Homo sapiens: one gene and its partners. The protein of the gene in region 6 purifies or fractionates together with the protein of the main gene of each other region. This does not show direct contact. Each region holds a gene or a part of one and is shown on either strand. Other genes may lie near its edges.

Region 1 (3,189 bases), on a different chromosome or scaffold from region 6:
GGGTTTTCACTGTGTTAGCCAGGATGGTCTCAATCTCCTGACCTCGTGATCCACCCGCCTCAGCCTCCCAAAGTGCTGGGATTACAGGCGTGAGCCACGGCGCCCGGCCTGATCCTGCAGTCTTAATTATTCTATAAAGTAGCTGTATCTAGTAGGTAATCAGCAGGACATGATTATGGAAAGTTAGTGGCTTCAATCAAGCCATGTACTTGGTAAAACCTGTTTTTGTTTTGCTATAGTCACAGCTCCTAAATTAGTGCCTTCATTTATTTCTCCTCTAATGCACTTTTCTTTACATAGATCTGAGTTTCTGAACTATATCATTTCCCTTCTCTCTGAAGAACTTCTTTGGGCATTTCTTGCAAGGTGATTCCATTGGTAACACATTCCCTCAAGTTTTGTTTACCTTAGAAAGTATTTCTCCTTCGCATTTGAATGATGATTTTACTGGATGCAACAAATATTTTTAAGCACCTACTATGTACCAGACACTTTTATGTACATTGGGGAAAAAATTCTGCCTTTTCTGCCATGAAAAAAACCCTTCTGCCTTTGTTGAACCTATATTCTAGTGGGGGAGACAAACAAATACAGTAATAAAACAGTATGTTGGGAGTTGGTAAGTGGCACGTGCTATGAGGAAAAGTAGGAAAGGTAGGGAGGAAGCATCAGGGTCCAGTTTTAAATGGAGCCATTGGGTCTCACTGAGAAGGGAACATTCGAGCAGATATCTATAGGAGCTGAGGGAGATGGGTGTACACAATTTACAGGTAGAGTGAATGCAAAGGTCCTGGGGTAGACGTTTGCCTGGCAGGTTTGTGGAATAGTAAGGAAGCCAGTATAGTTGCAGCACTGTGAGCCAGTAGGAGAGTTAGTGGAGGTGAGGTCTGAGAGCTAATAGGAGCTTGGAAGAACTGTGACTGGTACTCGGTGTGAGATGAGATGCCCCTGGTGGGTGCTGAGCAGACGAGTCACTTGATCTGACCCCATTTTGAAAGGGCCACTCTGGCAGCTGTGGGGAGAAGAGACAGTAGGGCAAAGGTGAAGGTTGAAGCTGGGAGACATTGGGAGGCTATAGTAGTTATTCAGGTGACAGATGAAGGTGGCTTATACCAGGGAGGTAGCCGAGGAGTGTTGAGAAATTGCTTTTGAGTAGTTGCATTTGTGTAACCCTAGCTAGCGTACAGGAGATGTTGCCTGGCTGAGGCTGGGGAAACCTAGTGCAGGAGAATAAGAACCACAGGATTACCAAACTCGTTTTGGGGTGGCAGTTCTTTCCTCTCCTTGACAGTAGCGGACTCTCAAGTTCCTCTAAAGAGGAGGCTGGGACGGGAAGGGACAGGAGGGGAAGCAGCACAGGGTATTTCCTCTTCTTTGCTCAACTTTATCAACAGTACTTCTTGCTTTGGTTTCACTGCCACAGCACCCCCGTGCCGTCTGTACAGCCTGCCATTCAGCTCCCGTTAGGGGTACCATTCACTGATACGATTTATGGCAGTTTTGCAGTTGTCCAGACTAGAGGATGGGTGTGAGGGTAAAGGAGCCTTTCGCTTCTTTGCCAGACACTGAGCACAAAACTCCACGCTGGGAGCAGCCTGGTCACATTTCAGGGTCATCTCAGGAGGCTGGGGGGCAGCTCCAGGGCTGTGGGTTTTCAAAGCCTCAGTTATCCTGTGAGAGCACAGGGAATAGCCATGGAAATGTGCAAGATTTGTTTTTAATTTTTAGACTTTATTTTTAATGCCTACCTTCACCCAGACCCCCTTTTTAATAAAAGTGCTGTAAGAACTTATCCACAATAATGAAGCCCCTTTTCTCACCTTTCTCACTTTTTGGACAATTTGCTCCAATTATTATGCTTTCTGAGGAAAGCCCAAAGCTTTGAAAAATAGTCTCATTGCTTTCTGCCTCCACCTCTCCCTCCCCTCCAGTGCGTTCCTGGTACTCGGGGAGAGGCCCGCTGGCTCTGATGACGCGGTGACCTCCATGGGGCTTTTTTCTTCACTGCCAGGCAGCCTTGGTGGAACACTCCTGGCCTATAAATTCAGCCACGTTGAGGGTATTTCCTCCTCCCTCGCGATTCTAAAAGCCCTCTGGAATTCTGGAATGTGTCTGCTCCTAGCAGCAGGGAGGAAGTGTGTAACTAGAGAGGAGCCTATTCAGCAGGTGTCATGACTGTGGCTTGGCGTGGGTGACGCACCCTCATCCGGGGTGAGTTAACCATCTTATGATGGACCAGCGATTAAAGGAGACTCAAACACCACTACACCCCCCTGGTTGAGGACAGAGCTCACTTGTGTTGCTTTGTTTTGCTTTCTTTGTTTTGCTCTGTCGTCCAGGTGTGAGTGCAATGGCACCATCACAGCTTACTGCAGCCTCGACCTCCCGGGCCAAAGCAATCCTTCCACTTCAGCCTCCTGAGTAGCTGGGACTACAGGCATGCACCGCCATGCCTGGCTAATTTTTGTATTTTTTGTAGAGACGGGGTCTCACGATGTTACCTAGGCTAGTCTTGAACTCCTGGGCTCAAGCGACCCTCCCACCTCAGCCTCACAAAAGTAGTAGGATTACATTCATGAGCCACTGTGCCTGGCCCTCACCTGTGTTTTAACAACACAGAGAGATGATTGTACTTAATAAACCATGGACCTGAAAAATCAGAGACGTAATGCAAATACTTTTCCAGCTGTATTTAGAAACGAACTCCTTCCTTCCTGATTGCTGTGACCCAGTTTACAATCTTAGGTGTGGTCCCTGATGCAGAGAAAGCAGAGTTCAATCTAGGTGGTCTGACTGCAGCCAATCAGAATTCTCCTTCTGAAACATGTTTCTGTAGAGTGAAATTTTTAAATCCCTTTGACAAGTTGGACAAGCTCATGCATAGCACACAACTTGAAAACTCTTCTGGCGTAAAAACATTCTCGAGTTAATAATGTTACCCCTTATAACAGAAAGGAAGTCCTGTCCTGTGAGCATATACATAAGGAGGTTTTAAAGTGATTTGAAAAGTTTGGAATCACGGGAAATATTTAGTGGTAGGATAGAAATGTTCTGTCTAATCTAGTAATGTAGTAATGTCCTGGGTCGTGTGCTTTTTTAGGTGCCTCGAGTCTTTATTGGTAAAGATTGTATAGGCGGATGCAGTGATCTAGTCTCTTTGCAACAGAGTGGGGAACTGCTGACGCGGCT
Region 2 (4,290 bases), on a different chromosome or scaffold from region 6:
TTTAGGGATGGAGAAAGGAGGAAGAACTGGCTATTGTCTCTAAAGGATATTGAGGTGGCCGAATAAAGGCATTTCTTTGTTTGGGAAGGGTGGGCAAACACCAACCAGAAAAATAGAAAATTAGGTGCCAAAGTGAGTGGCCTCAAAGGAATACATTGAATATAAGAGGGGGCTGGGCACAGTGGCTCACGCCGGTAATCCCAGCACTTTGGGAGGCCGAGGTGGGAGGATTGCATGCGCCCCAGAGTTCAAGACCAGCCTGGGCAACATAGACCCCGTCTGTATTTTGTTTTTTAATTAAAATTTTTTTTAAAAAGAAGAGGGAATGGAGAAGGGGCAGGAACAAGTAGGTCTAAAAGAAAGGACCCTGAAGAGACAGAGAATTGGGGAAACTGAGGCTCTGAGGAGTCCAGGCGTAAATTCTTAGGGGAAAAATCCTGGGCCAGACAGTGGGACCAAAGGGAAGAAGACAAAAGGCAAAACAATGGAGGGCTGAGAAGTGGAGACACATATAGAAGGAGACACTGGAAAAAGACAAAGCTGGGGGCAGAGGGGCTGAAATAAAGGAAAGGGCACTCGAGGACTAAGATTTGGTCACCAGCTTCTTCGTGAGAGCCCAGGCTGGGGTCAGGAATGGAAACCCTATTTCCTATCTCAGCACTGGCCATGCCAGTAAAGCTGGGTGGGGGCCAGGATGTGGGGTCACTACCTGTTGCTTCAGAACCTGCTGGTACCAGTGTGTCAGGACACCGCACCCTGAGCCAGCCCTGCTCTCGCTGGCCCAGCCCAGGGAACCAGGACGAAACCCCACGAACCTCCGAGGCTCCTGGCCACAATCAGCTTCCCTCTCTGAGCACACCTGCCTCTGTCCAGCCCCTCATCTGACTTCTGCTGCCTTGACTTCCCTCAGGGATGTGGAGCCACATCTTTCCTTATCTTTCCTTTCCTTTGCTCAAAACCCCAGGCCCAACTTACCCCGTGGTTCCTCCATGACTCTTTCACCTGCGTTCCTTCTGCCTTCCCTAGCCCCTCCAGGTCCCACGTGTTACAAACAGAGCCACATACTAGCAAGTTACTGAACCTCTCTGAGCTTTAGTTTATACATTCAGAGGGGCCAAATTTTCCCTGCCTTCCCACAGCATTACTATGAAGAAAACTAAATGAGATCATCCACCTGGAAGTTTTTTCTTCTTCTTCTTTTTTTTTTTTTTTTTTGTGAGATGGAGTTTCTTGTTGCCCAGGCTAAAGTGCAATAACACGGTCTCAGCTCACTGTAACCTCTGCCTCCTTGGTGCAAGCGATTCTCCTGCCTCAGCCTCCCAAGTAGCTGGGACCACAGGTGCCCGCCACCACACCCAGCTAATTTTTTGTATTTTTAGTAGAGAGGGGGTTTCACCATCTTGGCCAGGCTGGTCTTGAACTCCTAACCTCAGGCGATTCACCTGCCTTGGCCTCCTGAAATGTTGGGATTACAGGCACAAGCTATCATGTGCGGCCAGATGTTTTAGAAAGTGTAAAGCATTATATATTATGAATTATTACTGCCACTCATCCTGATCCCTCCACCAACAACCAGACTGCCATCCTCTGTGATGTCCCTGTTCTCTCCTCAGAAAGAAATTCTCTGCATGCACCTCCACGCCGAACCCCAGCTGTGCCAATTCCCTTCAGTCCTCTGCACGAATCCACCATGCATTGCCTCTCTCTTTCGCTATTCCCTCAGACACCAACCACCCACTAGACCATGGGAAGGTCGCAGAAATTCCTCAAGGGCTATAAGTACCCGGTGGTCAACAACACAGGTCCAGGGGTTGCCCGGCCTGGGGTTGAAATCTTGGCTTTGCTGCCTTCTAATGCATGATCTTGAGCTACTTTCCTAACTTCTCTGAGCCTCAGTGTCCTCATCTGTAGAGTGGAAATAGCAAATCTCCTTTCATACCGTTCTTGTAATGATCAAAAGTGCTAATATAGGCCGGGTGTGGTGGCTCATGCCTGTAATCCCAGCACCTTGGGAGGCTGAGGCGAGCGGATCACTTGAGTCAGGAGTTCAAGACCAGCTTGACCAAAATGGTGAAACCCTGTTTCTACTAAAAATACAAAAAAAAGAAAATTAGCCAGGTGTGGTGATGGGCACCTGTAGTCCCAGCTACTCTAGAGGCTGAGGCATGAGAGTCGCTTGAACCTGAGAGGTGGAAGTTGCAGTGAGCCGAGATTACGCCACTGCACTCCAGCCTTGGAGACAGAGTGGGACTCCATCTCACAAAAAAAAATAAAAATAAAAGTTCTAATATATAATCCAAATGTGCTTAAAACAGAGTCTAGCATATAAAAAGGCTCTAAAAATGATATTATTACTATTAAATGTCCAATCATTATCTTGTAGTGCTCCCATAATAAAAATCACCACCACCATTTATATAAACCTCTAGAATTTCCAAAGTACATATCACATACATTATTTAATTTGAGACACACAGACTAGAGTTAGGTGTCATTAACCCCACTTCAGAGTTTCAGAAACTGGGGCTCAGGAAGTTTAAGAAACTTACCTGAGGCGACCATACAGTGAGGAGCAACCCCCAGACTCAAAAGGCAGATTCCAGAGCCCCTGCCTGTCCCCTTCGCTGGGTCCTCTCCCGGAGTCTCCCTCCCGCCTCCCTCCTGTTCCCAGGGCCCCCAGCCTCCTACCTGGCAGGAGGAGACCAGCCAGCAGCAGTGCCATCATCCCGTGCCCACCCACACGCCCCATCCAGGGTGCCCGAGACGAGCCCATCTCGGACTGCACGGCCTCCTGACTGATGGCAGCTCAAGGACACCCGGGTCCTTTATGCCAGAGCTGGACATTCCCTGGGCAGGAGTCACTGTGGGGAGAGGAGGAGAGGTGGAGGGGGTGGGTGCCCCAGGGGAAGTTGGTGTGGCCGGGAGGAGCGTGGTAATCAGCCCGGTGCATCTGCCTACTCAGCAGCAGCAGTGGCTGCAGTGTGGGGTACCCATGGCCACGGGGCTCTAACGATCCTGCCACCTGACAGGCCTGGCCCCGGCTCCTCATTGCCTAACCCGGAACCAGGCGCTCTGCCCCACGGCCACCCACTCTGGGGCGGCCACTCTTGCCACGGGACCCAGCTGCCTGGCTCCTTAACTCTCCTGCCTACCGTAGCTTGGCCTGTCTCTCCATCTGCCCTCCACTCGCAGTCGTGGGTGTTTCAGCTTTTTCTTCCACACTTGGGTGCCCGCTCCAGCCCCACCCACCCAACCCCAATGAGGTCCCATTCACAGCCCCTGATCTGCTCCTTCCTTAGGACCCCATCACTCCACCTCCACTTTCCTCCTTCAAATATGAGTTCTGCCCCCATCCCCCAGGCTCCCCCTCCCACCACTCCCCAAGTACCAGGCCAGCCACATACCTATTACGTGTTCCATCACCTGGGGAACTTTCTCCTTCTCAGAAATGGGGCACCACATTCCCAAAACCAACTCCCTGACCTGTCGCTTCTGGGGGCCTCTGGGGACGGCATGGTGGCGGGGGTGGGGGGGTGCTGGGAGCCAGGGCTCAGCCAGGGGAGGGGCCTGGGCTGATGACCTCTGTCAAAGCTGGGCCTTGGTTACTCACAGGGCACTCACAGCCCCTCCCCATGGCTGGTAACCCAGACCTCAAGGGTGAGCAAGAGGCTAAGAAGGCTAATTGGGAAGGTGGTGGCCCCATAGCCCATCTGCTGGCCCTGGGCTGGATGAGCGAGCAGGAAGCAGCAGCCAGCTCTGGGCAGGTCGAGGAGGGCCAGGCAGGCTCCCGGGTCCTCAAAGGATGAAAGGAGGCCAGGAGAACCGGAGCCCTGCCATCTGCTGAGAGGGTGGTGGCTTCTCCTCCATTGCGTTGGCCTCCCTCCTGCTCTGGCCCCTGCCCCGCCCCAGCCAATTAATTGCTCACTAGTATTGCGGGAGTATCAGTATCGGAGGGAGGTGCCTGGGAGTCCAGCAAGCTGCCCTCTCCTCCCCCAGGCCTCAGACACCCCTGCTCCCCTCACCCAAACTCACTTCCCAAACCTCATCTCCTCACAAAGGCAGCTCTGTCCCTGGGCCCCTTGGCCTGGTCTCTCCCATTCCCTCTACCTCCTGACCGCCCTTTAAGTTCAGACCAGCAGGAGGATGGAAATGTTTCCTGTCTGTGCTGTCCGATACGGTAGCCACTGGCCACATGGAGCAAGTTTAACCACCAAAGATTTGGAGCTTTAATTTTAATTAATTGTAATGATGTGGTTGGCCACGTGCAGCTAGTGGCTGCCATCTAGTCTT
Region 3 (4,186 bases), on a different chromosome or scaffold from region 6:
AATCAATTGTATTTCTATATAACAGCAATAAACACTTAGAAAATGAAATAAGAAAAGATGCTATTTACAAAAGCATAAAAAAATCAGAAAAATTTTAGGAATAAATCTAATTAAAGATATGAAATGGCTGTACTCAGAATATTATAAAAGTTGAGATTATAAGTGCTGAGAAAATGAAATAGGAAAGGAGGCTATTCATAAAAGCATAAAAAAAGAGGAAATTTTTAGGAATAAATCTAAGAAAACATGAAAGAGCTATACTCAGAAAATTATAAATATTGAGATAAAGATTTAAATAAATGGACAATATATAGCTTGTTTATGAACTGAAAGTCTAAATAGCATTAAGATATCAAATCTCCTTAAATTCATTTATAGATGCAATGAAATCCCATTCTGAATATCTGAAGTTTTTTTAAAAAATAAAGATTAATAAGGTGATTTCTAAAATTTATATGAAAATGTAGAGGGCTAAGATTAGGTAAGACCATCTTTAAGAAGACTAAGTTGGAAGACATACCAGATAGCAAGGTGTGTTATAAAGGAAGAAAATATGGCATGATGCAAGGCTAAACAAATGGAATGATAAAAGATAATAGTATAAAGTCAGTCTTATATCACTCTGGACATTTGGTTAATGGCAAAGATGGTAGTGTAGGTCAGTAGAGAAAGAATAGTCTTGAATAAATGGTGCTGGGTTAATTGAATTTTCAAATGGAAAAAAAATAGTTTCCAGGTTGATTTTACATGTAAGAGATAAACGAAGATAACATTGGAGAATATCTTCAGGACCTCGGGGTGGGGAAATACTTAAATAAAATTCAAAAAGTACTAATTAATAAGAAAAAGACTGATAAATTGTACTGCATTAAAAGTAGGAATGTTTATTCTTTTAAAGATAGCATTAGAAGAGAGATGTACAAGCCACACAGTGGGAGGATATACAAAACACATTTAACCAATAAAGGAATCTGTCCTGAATATAAAAATAGCTTCTATAAATCAATAAAAAATACAGTTAACTCAATGGAAAAATGAATACCTTAGGAACGTTACAGAAAAGGATATCCAAATGGCCAATAAACATATCAAAACTTCTCAACCTTGTTATGCACTAGGGAAATGCAAATTGAAATAACGTGTGAGACCTCAATACACCCACCAAAGTGACTAAAAAGATAAGAAAGAAAAAAATCCTTGACAATACCAAATATTGGTGAGAATGTGGAGAATTGAGATTTTTTTTTTTTTTATGTACTGCTGGAGGCACATAAAGTGACAGAAGCACTTTGGAAAATTGTTTGACAGTATCTAAGTCCTAGCGATTTACTCTTAGGAATATTCCCAACTGAAATATGTACATATGTGTAACCAAAAGTAGTACACAAAAAAGTGCATAGCCCTATTATTTATAATACCCCCCAAAATGGAAGAGACCCAAGTATCTACCCATAGACAAATGGATGAATAAATTGTTATATTTTCAGATAACATAATAGTCAGTGTTGGGAGATGAAGGTAGACTGGACTAGGATGATAATGGCAGAGAGGGGGATAAATGGATAGATTTGGCAGGTTTGTAGGCAGAGTTGACTGGACGTGGTGATGAATCAGTGTGATGAGAAAACAGGAATCATGGATAACTTCTAGATTTTGGTATGAGCAAACAGTTATTTCTCGTTATTTCTATTATTTCCATCATCTTTCACATAAAAGAATGCAGTCTCTCCCTGCTCCTGCTCTTGCCTTCCTATATTCCTGTTTTCCACGTAGCAGCCCAGAGTGGTCTTTTAAAAACATAGATTATCTTACTCCTCCTGCTTAATACCCCTTTAAGTACATGCTAAAATCTAACATGTACTGTTTTAATTCTACTGTGCCCCTCTTTACATGAGCTACGCTGTCTAGCTCTCTGACATCACCATATACCACTGGTCCTCTTTTTAACTATGTATGCTCTAAGGCACACTAGCTTCTTTTTGCTCTTTGGGACAAGTTTACTCTTGCTTAGAATCTTGCCCTTTGCCTTGGCTAGTTTCTTTTGTGTTTAAGATCTCAACTCAAAGATAATTCCCTAGAGAGGTCTTCCCCTGGCCATCTAATTTAAAGCACTTTCCTCCTCCCTCCCATCACTTTACTACAAGCTTGTCCAATCTGTGGCCCAGGACAGCTTTGAATGTGGCCCAACACAAATTTGTAAACTTTCTTAAAACATTACGAGTTTTTTTTTAAGCTTATCAGCTATTATTAGTGTCAGTGTGTTTTATGTGTGGCCCAAGACAATTCTTTTTCCATTATGACCCAGGGAAGCCAAAAGACGGGACACCCCTGCTCTACTACATCACTCTTTTATTTTCTTCATTGTTCTTATCACTATTTAAAATTATCTTATTTGTTTATTGTTGTTTACTAAATGTTTCCCCCTATTAAAGGTAAGCTGCTAGGAGTTTATATAGTTCACTGCTGCATAGATAGAGCCAAGACCAAGTAGAAGGTAGTTAATACATATTTGTTAAGTAAATGAATAAATGGACAATCTAACAATACAGAGTATTGAGTAGCTCCATGGAAAGCAAATTTATGCCCTCATTTTCCTTCTATATAGAAATAAACCTTTTAGTGACAGTGCCACTAAAAAGAAAGAGAAAAACCCTAAACTTCCAGAACCTTTTGCCTTACAGTACACATACATTCAGATTTCCACCTTGGTTAATAGTAAGTAGACAAAATTAAATGTATTCCTTCTTACCTTGTTCACCAAAAGAGCAAATAGAATGTAGCCTGAAGGAGCCTGCTGGGTACTGAAGGCTGAGATAATGGCCCTTTTATAGCAGGCCCCATGCAGGGAGGAGCCACCCTCTGTGGGATGGTCTGATTCATTCCTAACCAAACCTAGATCCACCCATATCTCCACCTCTATTTCTCCAGCAACCTGTGTTTACTTCCCAGCTTCCTCACGTACTCATCTGTACTTGTTTCAGCAAGTTCCAAATTTGGGTTTACATATTGGAAATTTTATGGAAGGGTCCCTTTGGCTAATACAGGTTGTTTGTGTGCAGGGCCCATACCTACTTTTCTGTAACCCCACTTTGGCTTGACAGGTGCTTGGTAAATATCTATTGATAAATACACTTCCTGATCCTTGTCTCTAGAAGAGTAGGACATATTAATACGTTTATAAGAACTTGAAATTCAATTTATGATAGGAAAACATCACAAGCATCTACATATATGTTCTTTTTTAATCTATGTATTCCATCTTTGGGTACTGAAGAACTTGCCATGAGATGAATGCCGTCTTCTAGAAATTATGGTCAGTAGAGGATAGGCAAATTTAATTTTAATTTTTCAAAGCAGAGCAAGAATGTGAACAATTGAACTAGAAGTGGTGATCACTAGGAGCATGAGTTTAATTAGGCAAGACTCATTAGTGTAATTTTACTTTGTTTTCAAGGTTATTACATCGTGGCATCAGAGACATGTTCCACATACTCTTCCTTCTTAAACCATGAATTTTCTTTTATTGCCATAAATATACAGGGGACTCCTATCCCTGGTCTGTCTTATGATATACACACTGTTATGTTGAGCAGATTGCATCTCCATATGGATGTCCCATGGTTATCTCAATCCATAGTGTTGAAAACTGAACTTACATTGTGCCTCCTACCAAAATGTACTATCCTCCAGAAGCCCATATATTGGTAATGATGCCCCCACACACTGGGTGTCTCAAGCTAGACAAAGTCATTTTCATTTCTCCTTTTCCTTAACCCCTCATGCTCATGTCACATCGTATCAATTATACTCAGGCTTAGATTTTGTTATGTAGGCCTATTCTCTACCTCCAGTGCTATAATTTTAGTTCTGGACCTGACCATCTTTCAATTGGGTATTGGTAAAGAAAAAAAAGTGTCGTAACTAGCCTCTCTCTCTACTATTAAGCTGGCTTACCATCTTATGTCATTCGCTGTGCTGGTTTCTTCTTGCCTGCAGAATTTCAGACTTTTTTACCTGACGTACAAGCCCCTTTACAATAGGCATGAATCTGTATCTTTTCAATTGTCCCTCTTATTACCTGTATCTCATGGAAAAGTCACTCTAGAATGAGCAATATTTCTTGGACGAGCCCATATTGGTCCACTACTGTTCAAAATCTTTGCGTGCTATCCTCCACTACCTTGAC
Region 4 (3,500 bases), on a different chromosome or scaffold from region 6:
GAAATGGTATACAAACTGAACAAATAATTTAAATTGCTGCTTGAAATGAGAGCGACAGTGGCTGAGTATCTAACCTCTGCCTACTGGCTACTTGAGAACATTTCATTCTCTTGCCAATTTCCCAAAAAGGTCATTTGTGAACAGTGGAAGCCAGTCAGCCGTGACGTGGACCAGTCAGCATCTTTCTCTGAGACATACAGGGCCTTGCTAAGGCCGCATGGAGGAGGCTCGAGAACATGCCTCATGGAGGTCAGCTAGGGCCTGGGTTCAAATCCCAGCTCCTTTACTTCAGAGAGCTGGGCAACCCTGTTGAAATTTTCTTTTCCTTTTGAGACAGGATCTTGCTCTGTCTGTCACCCAGGCTAGAGTACAGTGGCTGATCATAGCTCACTGCAACCTTAAACTTCTGGGCTCAAGGGATCTTCTCACCTCTGCCTCCTGAGTAGCTGGAACTACAGGCATGCCTGGTTAATTTTTTTATTTTTTGTGGGGTCTCACTTGGTTGTCTGGGCTGCCTTGTTGAAATTGTCTAAGTTTCAGTTTCCTCACTCATAAAATGGGGATTAAATTAATACCTGATGGCCCAGGACTGAAACTCACAAAAAATGCCCAGAACACAGCAAGTGCTCAAGAAACACAAGCAGTTGAACTCCTCCCGGCCCCAGAGCTCAGCAGTGCATGCCAGTCACTCACCGGCGCATATGGGGGGCTGTACTCTCTGTACTTGCGGTGACCTTTCTCACTGGGGCTGAAATCCGAGTCATCTGAGAAGTCAGAGAAGTCATCGCTAGAAGAAGCATGGCGCTGTAATGACAGGGGAAGGAGACTCAGCAACCTGCCACAGGCAGGCCACTCGGGCACAGTCAGCCTCAGGACAAACTATGCTGGCATGTGCCGCAGGGCTCTGCGCTTCACCTGAAACACCTCACCTGGGGCACTTAGTGGCAATGAAGCATAAGCTACCAACTCTTTTAAAAAAGGTCTTTATCCAATTTGAGATAAGCAAAGGCATTAAGAGTGCCCTCTGGGGTGGACAGCAAAAGCTCAGCCCCTGGGGCTCTCAGCCAGGCCCAATGCCAGGCAGTGGCAGTCCCAGGGGATCTCCGACCTACTTTGTGCTTGGATTTCCTCCTCTTCTTCGACCTCCTTTTCTCTTTCTCCCGCTCTTTCTTCCGTTTCCGCTTCAGTCTCCTGTGGGACTTCTCCTCATCCGAATCACTGTGATGCTTCTCCCCCTTTTCTTTCCGGCTTCTCTCAGGCCCTCCGGAGGTATCCTGGGTCTCCTCTGCCCCATCATCTTCCAATTCACCTTCTTCCAACTCTCCATCTTCCCTACAAACAAACCCCAATCCCACCATGAACACAGGGTTTGAGAGGAGACCTCCTAGGGCTCTGGGCTGGCCAAGGCTGACAGGAACCGAAGGCCTGACTGCTGTGAGCGAAGTGAGACCCTGGGAGGACATGGGGGCCATGGCCTCTTGTTCCATCCCTTATCCTCCCCCTGAAAGAACTGTGCTTGCTCCAGTCTAACCTGGCTGGGGGAGGGGTAGGAGTTTAAGGGCATTACCACTAACACCGGGACACATCTACGCCAGATTTCCCAACAGAACTAGTGTTCTTAGAAGAAGAAACCGACAAGGTGCTGTGGTCACATAAGCAGGAAGAGCCCCATCTTGGGGATTCATAATGCTTAACGCTGCACAACTTCCAGGAAGCCCCATAGTCCAGAAACCCACACAGCTCTGCTGTGAAGCACTTGGGGCACTTCTAAACCTTGCTTGACCACAGAAGTCTCTCTCCCAGGGAGCACAGACCCACATCCCCTCCCTCCCAGGCCCAGGATTGCCTGCTGGGCCCCGGGCCCCAGTGAGCTGGGCGTCAGTGCCACCTGAGGCTGAGGGCGGTGGCTGTGCACCGTGGAGAGGGCCTTGGTTCTGAACCAGGGGTGGCCCCAAGCTACCTGGGACCCACCCACAGGCAGGCCTGGGCTGTGGCCTGAGAACCCTCCAAGTACTTTATTACAAAAGCCCCATGAGAACCGCTGGAAACAGGCTCAGAGTCCCAGGTCACAAGGTCTGACCCACCCTCGTCAGTCCCACACCTCTAGGCCGGAGGCAAGCAAACACTGAGCAGCTGGAGGAGGGGGGACGGATCCCAGGCCCCTCCTGAGGGCCTCACATGATACCGGCCCTGCTTTCTCTCCCTCCTCTGACTCACCTCCAGATAGTGGAACCCCTTCTGGCTCCCCATCCTACACTCTTCCAATTCCCCCGTGTCACCCCAATCTCCAGGACTTTAAAAGTGCTCTCCAAACATGACAGACACTGCCCAGTGGACATTCTGCATATGTAAATATCTATGGGGTGGGGTAGGAGTGAGGAAGAAATTGGGTTCAGGAGGGGGAGGCTGGAAAAAGAATCCAGTTTTTGAGCCAAACCCACAGACACAGTGTTCACAAGTACAGGAGTTGGTAAAGGAAAAAAACAATCTTTTTGAATAATTTTAAAAAGCTCCCAAAGTTCCCCATGAATGACCACAAAAAGGCTTGCGTGAGAGCATCCAACTCCTTCCGTCTCAATTAACTAGGACACAAAGAGAAGTGATGTAAGGAGGAAACATCACGAGCCCAGGCCCCAAAAGGTTAGCCACAAATGGAGCTATCTCTGCGGAAAGGCCCGCAGCTGCCCAAGCGGGAGCCAATGTATTAGGCGTGCTTGCCTGAAGGTTCCAGGGCATGTGGCAGACTCCTCCTCCCAGGACCCTCCACTGTCCTTTCGCTTATGTCCCTCCCTTTGTCTGCCTTGGGGCTGCTACCCAAACATCAAGGAGCGCCTCAAGAGCAGCTTTTTCTATGAACTCTCACTCCCAGTTCAAAGGGGATGGGTTCTATTTCAAACCCAAGTGGCCCAGCCCCACAGATACCCCTGGGCAGAGGTCAAGGGCAACTCTCAAAACAGAATGCAGGACACAAAACTCTTTCTGCTGCTTCAAAGTCAACAACACAGGTGACCTGACCCATGTGCACCTTGTGTTGCTTCCCCGACTAGCAAACTTGGAATGGGGCGGGGGTGCAGGCTGCAGTCCTGACAAGGGAGGTGCCTTCCCGCTGGGGTGCGGCCCACAGAAACCAGGCGTGGAGCAAAGTCCTCACTGGACACCTCACCCACACCGAAAAGGGCCACATGACTGGGAAAACTGGTTTTGTCCCAAGGGAGAAGCTGTTACTCAGTGACATGGCAAACTGCCCGCCGCCAGGAGCTGTGCAGACACTGGGAGGTGGCACCCTGATGGGAATACTGGGGGCAGGCCAGGGCCACACCTCAAGAGAAAGGGAGAGACGGACAGACTGAGCGGGAGAAGGCCCGGGACAGACTGGAGGTATACATGCTGGGGTTCCATAAAGAAAAGCTAAGAACAACATTACTCTCGACACTTAAGTCTAGAAGGGATAAAGCTGAGAGGGACATGATCACCACCCAGGCCACTAATATTTTAAATGC
Region 5 (2,794 bases), on a different chromosome or scaffold from region 6:
GCCTCCCGGGTTCACGCCATTCTCCTGCCTCAGCCTCCCGAGTAGCTGGGACTACAGGCGCCCACCACTACGCCCAGCTAATTTTTTGTATTTTTAGTAGAGACGGGGTTTCACCGTTTTAGCCGGGATGGTCTCGATCTCCTTACCTCGTGATCCGCCCGCCTCGGCCTCCCAAAGTGCTGGGATTACAGGCGTGAGCCACCGCGCCCGGCCTAAGCACATTTTTTTAAATGCTGAACATAATTAGGCATTAGGGAAATGCAACCAAAAGCCGGTACACGCTGAAAGTAACAACACTGGTAGTACCAAGTATTGGTGAGAAGAGAGAAAAACCAGAACTCTCCTAGGCTTTACTGGGAATGTTAAATGATACAACCACTTTCAAAGGCAATTTGGCAGATCCTTAAAAAGTTAAACTTACACCTTCCATATGACCCAGCCATTCTACTTCTATGTATCTATATACAAAAGAAATGAAGACATATGTCCATACAAAGATGTATATATATAAATATTCATAAAAACTTTATTTTCAATAGCAAAAATCTTGGTAACAACGTAAATGTTCATCAACAGGTAAATTTGTTCATCAACAAATCATGGTATACCTATACAAAAAAATGTTACTTACCAATAAAAGGGATGAACTATTGATACATACAATAACATAAATGAATCTCAAAATAATTGTACTGAGTGACAGGAGTCATACTACAAAGCATAGATGATGTATGGTTCCATGTATGTAAATTTCTTTAAAAATGCAAATTAATCTATAGTGACAGAAAGAAGATTGGTAGTTGCCTGAGCAGATCAGTGGTTGGGATGGGACGGGGAGAGGGAGAAGGAAGAGTGAGAAATTACAAAGATGCAAGAAGGAATTTGGGAGTATGATAGATAGGTTCATTATCTTGAATATAGCGATGGTTTGTTTCATGGAAAATGTGTCAGAACTTATTGTAGAGGTTAAATATGTGAAATGTATTCTGTGTCAATTAAAGTGTTCTTCAAATTAGAGGTGGAAGTGAGAACAAAACTCACAGATGTATACCTTTCAGTCCTGTGGATTAATTTTGCCCAAACCTGCTTTGGAAAACATGATCCCTAAATGAATGTGGCCTAACAGATATATCCTGGCTTGGTCAAATTTAAGTAAGAGCTGTAATATGAATGGTTCATGTAACTGTTAACTGTCAGTCAAAAACAGAGTCAGGATTAACCACTGTTCAGTCCAACTCATTAAAGAAATAATAAAGCAGGCAGCAGTCAGTGGTGGTATAAACAGTGACATAAGTGAGAGTACAAACCAGTGTAACTTTCTAGGGACCAATTTGGAAGAAGTCTCAAAATGTGCTCAACTTTTATCTCAACAGTACTATTGTTAGGAATTTTAAAAAATATATTAAGGATGTGAGCAAATATTTAGTATATCCAAAACAGCATAATATATATTATTAGCAATCTATTATTTGTTAATAGAAATAATTTTAATTACTCAAACTGTCTAAAATTAGATTCAATTATAGAAATCCAGCCACACAGTGGAATACTATGCACATCAAATTGATGACCTGGAAAGATCTTAAGGGAGGTTTTTCATAAGGGAAGAAATAAGCTACTGAAGGATATGATTAACTTGTAGTAAAATGCTTATAAATTTCTATTTGCATACACATAATAGGGAAGGATGTATATCACTATTAACAGCAGTGATTGCTGTGTGTTGGAATTGTGGGTGACTTCAATTTTTTTGGAGACTTTGCTGTAGTTTCCAAATTGCTGCCACAACGCAATTTTATTTTTAGGCAGAAAAAAATTAATGTATATGGAGGTTCTTTCTTAACTAAGGGGTGTGCTTGAGCTGTGTCTGAGCACATATGATTAGTTAGAGGACTCAGTGGTGTGTTGCGTAAGTTCCTTTGGTATTTTGTGTGTTTCAGAGGGAAAAGGAATGGAAAGAACAGCATAGCAAGCTTCAGATATTTGCCTCCTAGCTCAGTCCTAAAGTGCATTGCTGAGTCCCTGAACTTGTATCTCAGGCTTATGGAAAGATGAGAAGGAGCTGTCTTCATTACAAACTGTGTGAGACAGGGGGCATGCAGGGCTGTCTATGTGACAGTGACAGAAGCAGATCACTATTTCAGCTGCACATGAGACACAGGGTGGCTGCAGCTTTACTCTATAGGGTTTGCCCTTGGCTTTGTGTGCAGTGTCACCTGGGCACTAGTCCCCTGTTCAGCCTGGCAGTGGTGGTGGGCAGAGCCGGGCGGATGGAAGAGGGCTGGCTCCTGAAGCCCTGAGATGCTCCATAAGATCCCCTGAAACAATGGGCACAGACTTAGGTGAAGGCAGAGGCAATGGCAGGCACCCCAAACACTCCAAAACCAGCATAGCCTTCCCAGGCCCAAATTTCATGCATCTGCGGCCTCAGTTATTCTCAATGGCTCTGGAACTTTCAGCAAAGACTTTCACACACTATCCAGTGCACACGCTTTATTTTGGCATTCAAGCCACTGCACCAACTAGGTCACAGGGAATGTTAATTAAGGCAAGATAGGTAGAAGGAAAGGAGGGTATGTACAGCAATTGCTCCTCTTTACGGAGAAGAGAACCTGCCACAGAACAAGATGCAGTTGGTTTTGTGGTGCCTGATGAAGAAAAGAAAAGGGTGGTCTGCACAGAATCTTGGCTCCATTCTGCTGCACCGGGAATTCCTGACCACAGCAGTGGCTGCGGCAGCCTCTGTGCCTTCCTCATTGACCTCCACGAAGCACTTGTGGGCAACCTTGGACAG
Region 6 (3,524 bases):
TCTGGACTTTGGTTTCCTAACTCGTGAGATGACAATAGTAGTTTCTTTCTAATTTGGCTGTTTTTAGGTATAAACGAAAAGAATATATAGGTAAAGTGCTTAGTACAACCGTCTGGGAAATAGCAAAGTCCCCATAATGCCAGCTGCCGTTACTGTTATGTCTAGTATCGAACTTCTCCTGGAAATCAGCCACCTCTCTCCTTGAGCCCTGTCCAGGGCCAGTGGGTTTTTGGTAGTGTAGAGGGGCAACTCCTATCTTGCAAGGAACGGCAAGAGGTCGGGGCAAGCAGCTCTCTCTGGTCACTTCTTCAAGGGGGTGGTTGCTGAGGCTTTGGAAGGGAATTTAGTGAGCTCAGACCCTCTCAAGGCTACTGTGCTCCAAGTATGTGGCAGTTCATTTCAAGCTTGATGGCACACTCTTTGCAGAGCAGTTGCCAAGGAACGAGGTAATCTTGTGACAGAAATACTGCCTGATGCTGTCAGTTTGATGGTCGAAAAGGTTTTAGGTGGTATCAAATTTTATTACTAGCATTCCTGGTCTCCATGAAAGAACCACATAAGAAGACAAGTTATGTCAAAGGACAAAACCACAGACCTAGATGGGCACCGTGCATACAGCAGACACTTGGTTTCCTTTTGATATTGACTCAAACAGGGACTGGATTAAAAAAAGAAGAAAATAACAACAAGACCACAGACTTAAGCTGATCAGTGGTCTAACACTGGCAAGATTACTTTTGTTGATAAATTGATTTCTTGGGAAATCCTGGGAAAGTTCCTGGACGTGACCCTGTGGTCCTACCACCACTAGCTACCTGTGACCTTGGGTGAGTCAGCAAGTGGATGCAAAGGGAACACACACAGCACGGTGCCACAGCGGGCACCACCTGCCCCCCGCCGTCACAGATGGCTTGCAAATAAGCTACTCACGTACTTCCTGAGATCTGCTGCACCCAAACACACCAAGCTCAGAGAGGCTTTTGAGGCAGACAAGGGCAGGGAGAGAGGATGGTTCTTCTCGCATGGGTATTTAAGGAGTGTAGTGTCATGCGTGAGTGACTTTTTGGTTAGTAAGTTCTGCTGATTACATGAAGCAATGGGATAACTATCACGGCCAAAAGAGTATTCCTACTGCAGGCTCAGTAAGACTTTCTAATGATATTGAAGTAGTAGTTCCCTGAAAAGAGCTACTATGATCACATGGCTTGGTTAACTGTTTCTTACAAGTCTGAGCATGAATTTAACACACACGAACTATACACTGACAAAGACAGGATGCTCCTGAAATAAAATCACAGCATCTTATTGCATATACTACATCATCCAAGGTCAAAACCCTTTCATAGAGACATTTAAAACTATAACCAAGTAAAAGAGAAAATAGATGCAAATTTGCTTTTACAAAATTTGAAAATCAACCAAAAGAGTAAGGCACAAGATGCAGTCAGCTACAAAGCACTTCAGAGAACAGCGCTTTGCTCTCAGGTCTGGGACCCACCCCCTGGGCAAGGCCGCCTGGCAGCAGGCAGGAACCAAACCCCTGCCACCTCCACTCACTCCCAGGGTTCCTCTTTGCAGGATGGTGGGGAGCGCAGGCACCAAGGCAGGAAGGCCAGGGCAGGAAGATGCCCCGCGTCCTTCACTTTCCCTCAGTGTGAGCACACCAAGTTCCCTCTAACCAGGAGAACAGGACCCTAGGCACCAAAAGTCAAGCATGAGGGACTGCCACAGGCAGTCTGGCAGGTGTCTTTCAGATGCTAAAGTGCCAGGGTTTGCAGGATACTTGGATGGTTTACAGTGATGATGAGTTGGAGTCTTTAAACTCAATGGTGTCCTAGATACTCAGTTAGGATGATAGTGATCCCATCCATCCCGTGGTTGGTCACTGAGCTGCGTACGAAGCTGGCCTAGAATCAGACCCCGCATCCATAGGGAGAAATCATCACCCTCTACCGGGATCTGGATTTGTTTTCAGGATCTATTCTCATGAAGGAGACTTGAGAAGCTGAGAAACTCCAGAAGAATTTAAGTTTCAAAGTCAGATGAGTTTGCTACTCAACCTTCATCATGGTTGTAGCTTTCGCTCCCAGAATACAAGGCCAGAGAGGCACCAACCAGGAGGCAAACTTCACCTTCAAGGCCAGGCAACGCCTGGCTACAGTTAGACCCCGCAGCAGGGTTAAAGAAGGCTACAGTTAGACCCCGCAGCAGGGTTAAAGAAGGCTACAGTTAGACCCCGCAGCAGGGTTAGAGAAGTCTCTCCAGCAAGGCTGGGAGTTCAGCTTCCAATAGATCTAGAGGGCCAGGAGAAAAAGCATGCTGAGTGCCTGGCGGCATCTAGTGGTCACTAGTGGTCACTGCCAGTCATCAGCTTTCCTCCAATAAACCAGTTATCATGAGAATATAAAACAATCAGGAAGAAAAAAAAGTGTAGCTTTTTTTTTTTTTTTTTTTTTTTTTGAGACAAGAGTTTCGCTCTGTTGCCCAGGATAGAGTGCAGTGGCAGTGATCTTGGCTCACTGTAAGCTCCACCTCCCGGGTTCACGCCATTCTCCTGCCTCAGCCTCCCGAGTAGCTGGGACTACAGGCGCCTGCCACCATGCCCGGCTAATTTTTTGTATTTTTAGTAGAGACGGGGTTTCACCGTGTTAGCCTGGATGGTCTTGATCTCCTGACCTCGTGATCTGCCTGCCTCGGCCTCCCAAAGTGCTGGGATTACAGGCGTGAGCCACCGCGCCCGGCCAAAAGTTTAGTATTTTATCAAAGAAAACCATGACATACTAAATAGTCCTGAAACAAAAACGATTTACACATTTTCTTCTGACTAGGTATTTATTAAGTTCTAAAACCTTGAATAACTGCTATTTTAAAAATTCACACTAAAAGAAAACTAGAAATGTTAACATCTTTTACAGAGGGCAGTAAGTGGCCTTTTTTTTTTTTTTAAATTATAATTGCCTAGGAGAAAGGTGAGCTAATCTCTTTGGAAGTGTCATCAGCTGGTGAACTTCATCTTGGTCTCCACTTTATGTCTTTCACTCCATGAAAATGTCTTTTCAAAGCAGTGTTATCCGCCCATGGTGAGTTTAAATAGGCATCATCATCATTTTCTTCCAATCTCTGGAAATAAGTATGTTTTATTCAGGCAGGCATTTCAGGAAAGTGTTTTGCACATAAAGAGACTGAAGAAAGAGTCCATGACTGACCTCCCCCTCTCCCTGCCCTCTAGGAGCAGGATACTGCCATGTCTAACACCAGGGGACACCTGGCAGGACCCCGACAGACCTGCAGACAGAAGCTCTAGAAAGACCCCTCCCCGGCATTCTGCAGAGCTCACTGCTCCCCAGCAGCCCCAGGTAAGGCACACAGGCTATGTGTGGGCGCCAGCACTGCAGAAAGCCCATCTGTCCCCTGCTACCTTGAGCTCCTCTTGTCTTCTGTGATAGTACAGCATCAGCTGCTTCTGCTCCTCACTGCTAATAATAGGCTCTCGGGCTGGAGCTCCCTGTCCCCTCTGCAAAGAG
Region 7 (3,500 bases), on a different chromosome or scaffold from region 6:
TCATGCAAACCTAGATGGTATGGCCTACTATACAACTTGGCTACATGGTATAGCCTATTGCTCCCAAATACAAACCTGTATAGCATGTTACTGTACTGAAGACTGTAGGTAGTTGTAACACAATGGTAAATATCTGTGTATTAAATACATCTAAGAATAGAAAAGGTATAGTAAAAAACTGTATGAAAGATGAAAACTGGTAAAACAGTATAGGCACTTCCCATGAATGGCACTTGCAAGACAGGAAGTGGCACTGGGTGAGTCAGCGAGTGACTAATGAGTGTGAAGGCCTAGGATGTTACTGTACACCGCTGTAGACTTCACAAGCACTGTACACTTAGGCTACACTACATTTATAAAGAATATTTTTGTTTTCAGTAATAAGTTAACTTTGGCTTACTTTAACTTTTTTACTTTATAAACTTCTTATTTTTTAAAAACATTTTGATTCTTTTGTAACAACACTAGTCTTAAAACACAAAGACATCATACAACAGTACAATTATATTTTTTCTTTATATTCTTATCCTATGAGCTGTATTTATTTAATTTTTTAACTTTTTAAACTTTTTTGTGAATAAGTAAGACATAAACACTTTAGCCTAGGCCTACACAGAGTCAGGATTGTCAATATCACTGTCTTTTTCCTTCACGTCTTGTCCCACTGAAAGGTCTTCGGAGCATTACCACGCATGGCACCATCATATCCTATGATAACAATGCCTCCTTCTGGAATCACTCCTGAAGGGTCTGTCTGAGGCTGTTCCACAGCGAACTTTTATTTTTCGTAAGTAGAAGGAGTACACTTTAAAATAACTACTAAAAGTATACTGTTGTAAATGCATAAATCAGTAATAGTCACCATTATCAAGCATTACGTACTGTACATCATTGTATGTGTTGGGCTTTTCTACAACTGGCAGTCCAGTAGGTTGGCTTATGCCAGCATCACTACAAACACATGAGTAATGCATTTCGCTATGATATTATGATGGCTGCAACATCACTAGACAATAGTAATACCTCAGTTTCATTATAATTTGACGGTACTGCCCTCATATATGTGGTCCATCATAGACCAAAATGTCATTATGTGGACTGTGACTGTACCTCGTAAAAAGAATGTAGTAATTCATGTGAAGCCTTGCAGAGAAAGGAATCTCCCCTTCTCATTAGCCAAAATTTTTCTTAAGACAGACTGTAACTTTTTAACAACTCCCTGCAATTCTTTTTTGGTTTTTGTTTTGTTTTGTTTTGTTTTTAATAGTCCTAAAGCTACCATTGGAAAGAATTATTTAGGAATATGTGCATGGAACAAAAATATAAAATACCATGTTAAAGTGATTCAAACATACTAACATCTTTTCTGAGATAATGCTTGTGGCACCCAGGCAATAATTTTAAAATTATATAACTATCCAGAAGTCATTCTCCTTAACTTTTTGAATAAAGTTTTAATAAGTTTAAATATTTAACATCGTTCTTTGATCATTACTAATATTACTCTCTTTTGATATGAATTTGGTTGATTTTCTGATATTCCTAATTGAATCTTAGTAAACAGAAGTGTCAAATATTGAAATGATACATATCTGTTTTTATCTTTACAAAAATCCAAGAAATTGTAGATTCAACAGTAAAACTACCATGACTAAAGACACATAATGATGCTACAGGTGGAGCATCCTAATCCAAAATCCAAAATGCTCCAAATTCTGAAATTTTTGAGCATCAACATGACGCAAGTAGAAAATTCCATATGTGACCTCATGTGATGTGTCACGGTCAAAACTTTGTTTCATTAATAAAAAGATTTAAAATGTAGTATAAAATTACCTTCATGCTATATGTATAGGTTGTATATGAAACATAAATGAATTTCATGTTTATACCTGGGTCTTATCCCATCTCATGTATAAACAAACTTGCTGAAATCTAAAAAAATCCCAAATGGGAAAAAATCCAAAATCCAAAACACTTGGTCCCAGGCATTTTAGATAAGGGATATTCAACCTACAGTAAATATTTATGTGTGATAAATATTAGATAAAACTTCAAAGGGCTTGTTTATCACAATTCTTCCTCTTCTTACTTTTCTTATCTAATTCTTTGGTGTTTCTATCTGAAATACAAAGTGTGCTATACTTTCATGTTCCCTCATGTGCTTATGTAGGGAAATCAGAATTTTTCTTTCTGATAAATGGTTTATGAATTCAGATGATGGCAATGAGGAAAATCATGAGTCTATACAGTCTAAGAAATTTCAGGACATTTGGATTAAGGATTTTTTTTAAAAAAAAAGATACTATGAATCATCCTTGGGCTTCTACCTGCATATTCATGCCAAATTATGAAACTATTATTTCGTCTTAGAGAGTGGTAGAATACGTAATATATTATAGTGATTATTTTTAAATGCTTTTTGTAAAACTCAGTTGCATTTTAGAAAATACAAATTTGTACAACTTTTAAATAATATTGTAATCCAAACATAACTTTAGAAAAATATATATATGCGTGTGTGTATACGTATATATTTCATAATGTATTTCAATGGAAACGTTGAGAGAAGGAAGTCCAAACATATGGCTCTCATACATATATAATCCAAACGTGTAATCCAAACTATATATAATATATAAAATAATGCATTTCAAAGGAAATGTGTGGATGTGTGTGTGTGTATATATATATATATATATATATACACGTATGTGCCATGCTGGTGTGTGTGTGCCATGTGCCATGCTGGTGTGTGTGTGTGTGTGTGTGTGTATATATGTATATACGTATATATATACATATATACATATATATACTTATATTATATGTATATATGTATATATAAGTATATTATATATACATATATTATATATATGTGTATATATACGTATATTATATATGTGTATATATACGTATATTATATATGTGTATATATACGTATATTATATATGTGTATATATAAGTATATTATATATGTGTATATATACGTATATTATATATGTGTATATATACGTATATTATATATATATATAAAGCATTTCAATGGAAATGTCTTGTGAGAGAAGAGAGGAGTAAGTAGCTTACGAAATAGGAAAATCACTTTTTAATACTTTTATATTCAAACACTATAAGAAAGAACAGCATTATTAGATCTAAATGAAAATAAAAACACACACAAAAAAAACAAAACACAACAACAAAAAGAAACCATGAGTCTGAACCCATGACTTTGTCAGTAAATACGCTTTTCCAGCTCTTTCACTCAAATGGTGAGCAGCCTTCATGGCACTTCAACTGCATTGAACCTCAAGCACACTGATTCTTGACTTTAATCAAGTAAACATATATATTTACTCTATACTATATATTTAATAGAGTAAATGAGCCAGAGTTTCATGAGGAATAGCTGAGCTCCTTTTGGAGCTAAGATAACTCAAGACAAGCCCAGAACGTCTTGTCAGAAAGCAAAAATATTTTAAAGTTATTGGGAAGGATTG

Evidence for each region.
Region 1: the proteins of CFAP298 (region 6) and GLRX purify together in Homo sapiens (affinity purification with mass spectrometry; 3 studies listed by BioGRID and IntAct, with this or other methods). This does not show direct contact.
Region 2: the proteins of CFAP298 (region 6) and CDSN purify together in Homo sapiens (affinity purification with mass spectrometry; 3 studies listed by BioGRID and IntAct, with this or other methods). This does not show direct contact.
Region 3: the proteins of CFAP298 (region 6) and FLG purify together in Homo sapiens (affinity purification with mass spectrometry; 3 studies listed by BioGRID and IntAct, with this or other methods). This does not show direct contact.
Region 4: the proteins of CFAP298 (region 6) and ZC3H4 purify together in Homo sapiens (affinity purification with mass spectrometry; one large-scale study listed by BioGRID and IntAct). This does not show direct contact.
Region 5: the proteins of CFAP298 (region 6) and SERPINB8 purify together in Homo sapiens (affinity purification with mass spectrometry; 3 studies listed by BioGRID and IntAct, with this or other methods). This does not show direct contact.
Region 7: the proteins of CFAP298 (region 6) and SERPINB7 purify together in Homo sapiens (affinity purification with mass spectrometry; 2 studies listed by BioGRID and IntAct, with this or other methods). This does not show direct contact.

Annotation. Positions count from the first base shown.
Region 1 is NC_000005.10:95,816,538-95,819,726, reverse strand, and holds part of GLRX (glutaredoxin-1), read left to right. Parts: intron 1-3,100; coding exon 3,101-3,189. UniProt on the Homo sapiens protein: Has a glutathione-disulfide oxidoreductase activity in the presence of NADPH and glutathione reductase. Reduces low molecular weight disulfides and proteins.
Region 2 is NC_000006.12:31,117,647-31,121,936, forward strand, and holds the start of CDSN (corneodesmosin precursor), read right to left. Parts: upstream 2,801-4,290; 5' UTR 2,774-2,800; coding exon 2,689-2,773; intron 1-2,688. UniProt on the Homo sapiens protein: Important for the epidermal barrier integrity.
Region 3 is NC_000001.11:152,322,440-152,326,625, forward strand, and holds the start of FLG (filaggrin), read right to left. Parts: upstream 2,801-4,186; 5' UTR 2,750-2,800; intron 1-2,749.
Region 4 is NC_000019.10:47,093,277-47,096,776, forward strand, and holds part of ZC3H4 (zinc finger CCCH domain-containing protein 4), read right to left. Parts: intron 1,333-3,500; coding exon 1,113-1,332; intron 805-1,112; coding exon 694-804; intron 1-693. UniProt on the Homo sapiens protein: RNA-binding protein that suppresses transcription of long non-coding RNAs (lncRNAs). LncRNAs are defined as transcripts more than 200 nucleotides that are not translated into protein.
Region 5 is NC_000018.10:63,987,081-63,989,874, reverse strand, and holds the end of SERPINB8 (serpin B8), read right to left. Parts: coding exon 2,597-2,794; 3' UTR 501-2,596; downstream 1-500. UniProt on the Homo sapiens protein: Has an important role in epithelial desmosome-mediated cell-cell adhesion.
Region 6 is NC_000021.9:32,598,854-32,602,377, forward strand, and holds the end of CFAP298 (cilia- and flagella-associated protein 298), read right to left. Parts: exon of another isoform or gene 3,515-3,524; coding exon 3,419-3,514; coding exon of another isoform or gene 3,371-3,418; exon of another isoform or gene 3,121-3,370; coding exon 3,010-3,120; 3' UTR 501-3,009; downstream 1-500. UniProt on the Homo sapiens protein: Plays a role in motile cilium function, possibly by acting on outer dynein arm assembly. Seems to be important for initiation rather than maintenance of cilium motility.
Region 7 is NC_000018.10:63,785,418-63,788,917, reverse strand, and holds part of SERPINB7 (serpin B7), read right to left. Parts: intron 1-3,500. UniProt on the Homo sapiens protein: Might function as an inhibitor of Lys-specific proteases. Might influence the maturation of megakaryocytes via its action as a serpin.